2 linked regions of the Homo sapiens genome follow. The protein of the gene in region 1 purifies or fractionates together with the protein of each later gene. This does not show direct contact. Each region holds a gene or a part of one and is shown on either strand. Other genes may lie near its edges.

What was found.
Region 2: the proteins of PEAR1 (region 1) and ZAP70 purify together in Homo sapiens (affinity purification with western blotting, with the first as the bait; one study listed by BioGRID). This does not show direct contact.

What each region holds. Positions count from the first base shown.
Region 1 is NC_000001.11:156,900,218-156,903,717, reverse strand, and holds part of PEAR1 (platelet endothelial aggregation receptor 1 isoform 1 precursor), read right to left. Parts: intron 1,531-3,500; exon of another isoform or gene 1,433-1,530; intron 1,108-1,432; exon of another isoform or gene 1-1,107.
Region 2 is NC_000002.12:97,726,321-97,731,528, forward strand, and holds part of ZAP70 (tyrosine-protein kinase ZAP-70), read left to right. Parts: intron 1-5,208. UniProt on the Homo sapiens protein: Tyrosine kinase that plays an essential role in regulation of the adaptive immune response. Regulates motility, adhesion and cytokine expression of mature T-cells, as well as thymocyte development.

The DNA of each region.
Region 1 (3,500 bases):
AGTTTGCTTAGACACCCTCACGTCTCATTCTTCACCTGGAGTTCCCATCTTTCAAGGTCTAGTTCAGGTGCCACCCCTTCCCTCCTCCACTTCCTGATGCTCATTGGCAGATGATCCCACTCATTCCTTCTGGGGGTCCCAGTATCATTCACCCCCACCCCACTGTTCCAGTGCCTGCTCCCTGACCATGACCTCCAGAGGCAGGGACCCAGTGCGTTTCATCTCTGAATCCCCAGCCCCCAGCCCAGGCCCTACCCAGGGCACTTTGATATTTGTACCAAGGTGTGAGACTGGAACCAGTGAGGGGAAGTGATGAGGGACTCAGCCTTGGGCTCAGTCAGAGGAAGAACTTTCCAACAGTCAGAGCGGCTCAGGAATAGAATCGGCTACCTCAGGTGGTGAGTTCCCTGTCACTGGACATATGCAGGCAGAAGCCAAAACCAGCCTGATGAAACGCTGTCAGGGGTTTCCTGCTCTATATGGTGGGAGTGGGGCTGGGTCCAGGTGACCTCCCAACCAGTGGTGTGCTGGAACCACCTCATACGGGCCCAGAGAGCCAATTGTATGCATCTCTTCCTAGCAACATGTTCAGTGATGTCACGTGAGTAGCTTGAAATCAGGCATGGGGGGTTATTGACACCAGAGAAACTAGCAAACACTAAAACCCAAGGCCAGTCTCCCTCCCAGAGTCAGTTGTGACACCTTAGCCAGCACACCACAACACCCAACTCTAGGTGCCATCACCTGAAGAGGTCACCAACCTGGCCTTGCATTTAAGGAAAAGCTCCCGCCTCCCTCAGACTGCCCTGTCAGCCATTCGGAAATGGGGTCCTCTCCATCCCCACCACCCCTGGCTCCCAGCACTTCAGACGGCTCTGCTGCCTCAGCTCCTGAGCTCAGGAGAGGATGAGTTACCGCAGTGCCCATCCCCGCAGCCGGCTTCAGGGTCTGCATTCCGTGTTCCCAAAACTTGCTCTGGCTCCCTGCTCTACGCCTCCCCGAGGCGCCCACATCTGCTTATAATTTTTCTGAGACGAGAGAAAGGTCGCGGTTGCTGGCCCCTTACCCCCCTGAGTATCTCTGGAATGTTGCTGCCTGGCCCTACCCCACACCCCACACCCACACACTCCCAGGGTCCCCAAAGCCACTCTCAGCCCCAAGAAGGGCAGCCGCTCCTTCCCTCCAGGTCTAGGCTCCTAAATTAACCCCATCTCAGCCGCCCATGTTCCTCCTTCACCTTTAACCCTCCAGCAGCCAAATCTCCAGCCTTTCATCCAGGATGCTGGCCCACCTATCCTCCCAGTGCCAGCGTCTACCCACCCCTCCAGTGCAGCCCAGCCGCATGCCCCATCACACTTCCCGCAGGGCGAATCTCAGCCTCTAGCCTCCTCTGTGCTTCCTCCTATCCATCCTCAGTCCCCAAGTAACTCACCAGGTGGGGCCTGCCCACAGCTCAGCCCTGGGGCCTGGGACCTGGGGCCTGGGGGCCAGGGAATGTCCTGGGGGATCCCAGCGTTCAGGATATGAAGCCTGAAAACAGGAAACAGAGCCTGGCTAGGAAGGGGGACAGCAGGGAGCGTGACGGGGGTGGCTCCATCCTCCCACCATCCTGAACGCAGTGGGTAGCATACGGGAGGGCCATGACCAGAAGCCTCTTTCTGGCAGCTTGTCTCCAGAGCTGACACTGTGGCCCCCTCTGAAGGGGAGAGGCCACAGTCAGGAGTGCCCTAGAGACACTCCCCAGAGTCTGTCCCAGAGCTCCACCCCCACATCACCCAGACACATCCCCACTCCCAAATAGAGTCATCCCTTCTCCCAATGTCCCCAAACCATCCCCTCCCACCCTGCCCTGCTCCAGCCATCTTCCCAGGCCCAATGCCCACTCCAGGGATCGCTCTGCCTAGCCCCAGCTAACCTTCTCTCCACCTCTCCCTCAGTGTGGTTGGCAGCCAGGGCCCTGGTCAGGACCCCGAGCCCTCCATATGCCTCTGCCTCATCTCTCGGTCTCCACACTCCCCTCTTCCCTGACCCTCAGCTCTGGCCCTGGCGTGGGGCCCCTGTGCTCCAACTGCAGCTCAGTCTGTCTGAAGCCAGGCTCATCACCCTTGTCCCTGGGTGAGCCTCATCTCCTGAGACACACAAGGACTCCCCAGCCATCCTTCTGCCCTGGATCTGTTCACAGAGCCTATGGCGTGGTGGCATGGACAAAACTTGTTGCAGGAAGGAGTCGAGTTAAGGCCCAGGGAGGAAGTGCCATATAGGTTGAGCTGTTGTTGGGCCGAGAAAAGGTCCTTCCTCCCATTCCTGTCAGCCCCTACCCACCCAAGTCCTGTCCCTGTCACCTCCTCCCAGCCAACTTCTAGAGGACACGGTTCACCTGGGGGACTTTGAGATGGACTGAAGGACTGAGGAGCATGAGGAGGAGCTGACTCTCATCCCCACCCACTTCTGGCTGGCTGGGAGGTTAGCTGGCTGGAAGGGTGGGTAGGTTCTGTTTTCCCAAAGGTCCTCAGGGTAGGGCCAGAGTGCGGAGGAGGCATCAGCTGGTCAGCCCAGGGGCTGGAAGCCAGGGTGGGGTCAGGGGAGATCAGTGGGTGGCCCCGGGAGGGGACAGATGAGATGGGGGTCCTGGCAGGAAGAGGAAGGTTTTGGCTTGACCATCCTTTGCCTCTGAGAAGGGAACACAGGCCAGACCAGGAGCCCAGAGCCCCAGCCTGGCCTCCAGGCTAGTTCCCATCTAAGCCTTTGTCCCTGAGGGGCAGGGCACCTGAGCCTGGCCCATGCTCCCCCAACCCCTTCCAGCCACAGCAGCAATGGGCCCATTGCATATACCCAAGAGATTGCATATACCCCTCAAGGGGGTGAAATGAGACCACTCCTGGACCCCTGCTCTGCCCTGGGGGCCCACAGTGCACTCACTGAGGGGGACCCTGGAGCACCCCTGCTGCAGGCTTGCTTCTTCTCATGCAGAGGCCCCCTCCTGTTCCCCTACTCAACCTTCACCCTCCAAGCCTCTGGTTTGAGGGACTCAAACACCTTCCCTCCCGAGAATCATAAGGTGACCCCACGTATCGTTCACTGAGCTGCGACAGGCAGGGTGTTGAGAGATTTACGTGGATCATCACATTTAAAGTTTACATTAACCCCTTGTAGTAGGTGTTATGGCCCACTTCAGAGATGAGGAAGCAGGCACAGAGAGGGTAAGAAACCTGACCAGGACCGCACAGCCAGGAGTGTCAGAGCTGGGATCCAAATCCAGGCTGCTGGCAGAGGACTCCCCATGATTCTACTCTTTCCCAAGTCCAGATGGGAAGCCCAGGGGCTCTGTATCTTCTTTTTAAAAGTCTCTCTTATGGGGTGGGGGAGCTGCCAGGGGATTGGACAGGAGAAGGGGATGGGGGTGGGGGCTGCCACAAGAACATGATCAGAAGCGTGGGAACTGAGATGTGTTTACAGTCAAGAATGAGCTGACACTTCTCTCTCCTCCACCTCGAGATGCA
Region 2 (5,208 bases), on another chromosome or scaffold:
TTCTGTAACAGATGGTATCCAGGTGCAGCTGAGGTCACTCAGGCCTCAAGACACAGATAAATTGGTGCTGCCTCTTTCCCATGACCTCAGGAAGCCCAGTGTTTTCCCCCAAGAAATCTGTGGGGACAATTCTTGGGCCTTCCTTCTCGTGAGTGCTTCTTGGCCTGAGCCCCTGCCCAGCAGATCCCTTGGGTCATCTGCCTCCCCCAGGGCTGTTTCCTCTCCTGAGGTCAACCCACTTGGAGGAAATGACCACATCCCTTGATTTTCCTCACCCATGTGAAGTTTCTGTAGATTGCCTGCAGGCCTCTTGCAAGATGCAGCTCCCTCTCCAAGATTCTGTTGTGGGCTGATAAAATAACTCTTTTCACCCTACCATACAGATTCAGATTTAGGCTGTAAATTGGAGTGGAGTTTCCAAGGCTTCTGAGGGAGCTCTTAGATACATGTTGCACGTAATACTCAGTTGCCGGCACAACTTCTGAACAGGACAGGGCTGTTTTCTCTAAGAGGAAACCTTTGCATTTGTATCAGTTAGCTTTTGCTACATAACAAGCAGCCCTAAGATTTATTGGCTCAAAATGACAGTTTATTGCTCTTCATGATTCTGTGAGCTAACTAAGCAGTTCTGGTTTGGGTCATCTAGGCTGGGCCTGAATAGGCTGGGATGGCCACACTCACATGACTGGCCATTGGCTCAGTGTCACCTGGGTGATGGGGATGAGCTGGCCCAGTGCAGCCATCATCCAGCAAGCTAGCTGAAGCTTGTTTGTGTGGTGGTGGTGCAGGGTTCCCAAGATCAGTCAGAGAGGACAGGGCAAGTTCAAGCCTTTGTTTGTGTAATGTCACTGATGTCCTAATGGACAAAGCAAGTCATACGACCAAAACCAAAGTCACTGTAGGGAAGGGATTCCTTAAGGGAGAGGAATGCAGGGAGCCATTTTTGCAAACGGTTGGTCGTAGGATTGGATGAAGCAAGTTGTCGTGAAGGTATGGGCATTGTGAACATGGGTGTTGGGGGCTGTCTCTCTTTCCTTTTGGACTGTCAGCCTGAGGGCAGGGCCTGCCCTGCTGCATCTGGAGGGCTCCATCTTGCAGTACATGGTGATGGCTGGTCCAGGTATTACCCACCTTCCTCCAGATGTTGCATCACCCCACCCCAGGTGTGACCCTCGCCAAGATGTTAGTAATGTTTGCTCCCACGTTCTCACATGCTCATATCCCCCTCGTCCATTACATGCTACCCCAGGTGCCTGAGAGTCCAGGGGCTCTCCCCAGGCTGGACACGCGAAGAAGGCTCTAAACCCTTCCTATTGATGTAGCTGATTCTTTCCTTCCGTCTCTGCTTTCTCTTTCATAAAATGTAAATTCATCTGTCTTCTTTGATTTTATAATCTGAGTTTCTTCTCTGTTTTCCCCCTACATCCCCAATGTAGCTTTTCATCCCCACCATCTCTGCCTCTCTTCTGTCTCAGTTTTCCTTTCTTCTTCTCTCTTTCCCTCCCCACCCCCATCTCTCTTCCTCATCTTGCACTCACACACACACATACAGGTCATGATTCTGCCACTCCAATGGCTTAAAAATTTCCCCCAGATTCCCTAAAGCCTCCTGAGAGTGGCAGAGGATTCTAGGGGGTGGGAGAGTGAGAGAAGGGTTGAGCAGGTGGGATTTGGGCCCCTGTTCCAGCTTGAATGACGACAGCCGCTCAGCTTTGATCTGTTTGCTATCTTAGGCTTCCACACACAATGTTGTGTGGCAGAGGTTTCACTGCCCAAAGGAAAAGTTCAAACAGTTTTTGTGTAACACAGCAGAGCTCATGACAGGCTTAGAGTCAACCAGTCTGCTGAGATTAGAGGAGTCTCAGGAGAGCCAGGGCCAACAGCTTTAAGCAGCTGTCTGTGCATTGCATATCAAACTGGCGTGCAGTCTCCCAGGCAAATAGGACAAGCGTTGGCGGTGGGAGGGTGTGGCTAGGAAGGAGAGATGCCCAGCATCTGGGCACAGCATAGAGCGTGTGGCTGGCAGTGAGGTCCACAGCTGGCACAGTGGTATGAGGACAATGACTCATTCTGGGTAAACGTCAAGAGACGAAGCAGCTACAAAGAGCCAGGCTCCTGGAAAATTAGGCAAGGTACGCTTTGGACAGAAACTGTGAGAGCTTCTTCTTGTGGTTCCTGTAGTCTATAACTGCTTTCTCAGGGCTTGGGGTGTGAGAGAAAGACACGTGCTACTCAGGCCTAGAGTGAAGACCAGGACCACGCCTACCATTGATCACAGTTCATGGTTGCCGAAGAACAGATTTAATTGTACCCAGGGCTGTGCACTGCCAATGCTGGCTTGTTTCTGTGTTATTGGCAGCAATTTTATGGAACCGGCTGATTCGACTTTAAAAGAAACTTGTCCTGGAAAGGGCCTTTAAGAGAGTACATTGTCAAGTGTTTCTTTTTTTGAGACAGAGTCTTGCTCTGTCACCCAGGCTGGAGCACAGTGGTGCAATCTTCGCTCACTGCAACCTCTGCCTCCCGGGTTTAGTGATTCTTCTGCCTCAGCCTCCCTGAGTAGCTGGGACTATAGGCGTGCACCACCACGCTTGGCTAATTTTTGTATTTTCAGTAGAGACAGGGTTTTGCCATGTTGGCCAGGCTGGTCTCGAACTCCTGACCTCAGGTGATCCACCCGCCTTGGCCTCCCAAATTGCTGGGATCACAGGCGTGAGCCACCGCGCCTGGCCTGTCAAGTGTTTCTTATCCTCTCCTGGACTGCAGACCTCTTTGGAATCCTACTGACTGCTCCTTTCACAATCCCCCAAAGCATATTCACCTCAAAGACTTTGCAGACAGTTATATGAGATCATGGTTGGTCCTGAACCTCGTCCTTAGAACCCTTTTCAGGTCAAGAAGTTATGATTTAGACCAGTTACCTCATTTTATACATAAGGAAACCGAGGCACAGCGAGGATAAGCAGTTTATTCAGGGTTTCACAGATAATCTGTGACAGAGCTGGGTGTTAGTCCTAGGTAGCAATTAACTGTAGAGTCAGAAATGCATTTGAATCCTGGCTCCCCCTCCTATCTCTTACCAACTCTGCAATTTAGGCAAGATACATAATCTTGTGCCTCAGTTTCCTCATCTGCAAAATGGAGATAACAATAGTGCCTACTTTGTGGGGAGTGCTGTGATTATAGGACAAATATGTGAGGAATTTAGAACCAATATCTTAATAAATAAATTGTAGCCCTTTTGTTTTGTTTTGTTTACAATCGTGAACCAGAGACAGATGTAGCTCTTATAGGTTCTATGTATTATTTTAAGAGCAGAGATACAAGTTGATTTTTTAGCCTGTACTTCTGGCTTAAGTGCAAGTTCCAACTGCAAGAACAAAGAACTGCCACTACCTAGCATTTTTTTTTTTTTTTGTAAATCAAGTAGAACTTATGGTACTGAAATATATGTGGTGATAACACCAATGTCTTAGCTTTTGTGGTTATTATCTGGGAATTTGCAGCTGCTCTTTATGAACTCACACATCTCTTTCCAAAGAGTGTATTGGTTAGCTTTTGCTGTGTAACAATGTGCTGTATTCATACCCTGAAATGTAGTGGCTTAAAACAATGGTCATTTACAGCCAAGTGTGATGGCTCACACCTGTAATCCCAGCACTTTGGGAAGCTGAGGCAGGCGGATCGTCTAATGTCGGGAGTTTGAGACCAGCCTGGCCAACATGGTGAAACCCTGTCTCTACTAAAAATACAAAAATTAGCTGGGCATGATGGTGGGTGCCTGTAATCCCAGCTACTTGGGAGGCTGAGGCAAGAGAATCACTTGAACCCAGGAGGTGGAGGTTGCAGTGAGCCAAGGTTGCACCATTGTACTCCAGCCTGGGCAACAAGAGCAAAACTCTGTCCCAAACAAACAAACAAACACCGATCATTTATTCACTCTTGTTTTGCTTGGCAATTTGGCTGGTTGCTTGGTAATTTGGGCTGAGTTCAGCTGGGTGCCTCTTCTGCTGGGTTTTTGAGCTTACTCATGTGGCCACAGCCAGCTGGAAGATTGGCTGGAGCTGGATGGTCTCTGGGATGGCCTCACTCACATGAATGGCTATTGGCCACTCATGTAGGGTGCCTTGGTTCTCCTCCATGGGCCTTCTCTAGCAGGCTAGCTTGGACTCATTCCCATGGTATTTGGAGAGCTGCCAGGAAAAGCAAGAGAGGGCAGGCCAACCTCAATGTTCAACCATTTTTCAAGCCTCTGCTTGTGTCATGTTTGCTAATGTCCTGTTAGCAAGGCACATGGTCAAGCCCTGATTCAGAAGACAGAGGAGGAGGCCCCACCTATTGATGGGAAGAGCTCCCTAATATTGTGGCTGTTTTCCCCCAGTATTCCACATGGAAGTTTAAATAAACAAATAAGGAGGAAATTATTAGTTCTAGAAGAAAGAATGAAAGAGACAGACAGACTTGGTGGCTCACGCCTGTAATCCCAGCACTTTGGGAGGCCGAGGCAGGTGGATCACGAGGTCAGAAGATTGAGACCATCCTATCTAACACAGTGAAACCCCATCTCTACTAAAAATACAAAAAATTAGCTGGGCGTGGTGGTGTGCACCTGCAGTCCCAGCTACTTGGGAGGCTGAGGCAGGAGAATGGCATGGACCCAGGAGGCAGAGCTTGCAGTGAGCCGAGATCACGCCACTGCACTCCAGCCCGGGCTGTGGAGCGAGACTCGGTCTCAAAAAAAAAAAAAAAAAAAAAGAGACAGAGGAGGGGAGATGGGAGGTTTGCTGTTTGCTGGTGAGTGGCTTGGCATGGAGTCTCTGTTGTCAGTTTAAAACTTCAGGTTGTGACCCTTAGGAGGTGTTTTCACTTCTCACAGTCCCTGGAGACCATCACCTCCAGGCCAGCCTGCCACCTGCCTCTGACTTCCACAGCTCTGAGACCCCCAGGGCCAATAGCCCTCCCTCCTCACTGGAAAGCTGCACTTAACAGGAGCTTGTGCCAGTGACTCAAAATAGAAATGTTTTGTGGGAGATGTTGACTGGTGTCACTGCGGGGTTTCACGTGACGGCGCTGCATCTGCTGTCCCAGCCTACTGTCTCTGTGGGATGTTTGTTTCCTAATTTGTGGTGGGTTCTCTTCCTTGCCCTTTTGTGTGCCCTCATTGCCCCCGCCCTGATTTCCCATCTCTCCATGTTATCTCCAGACTGT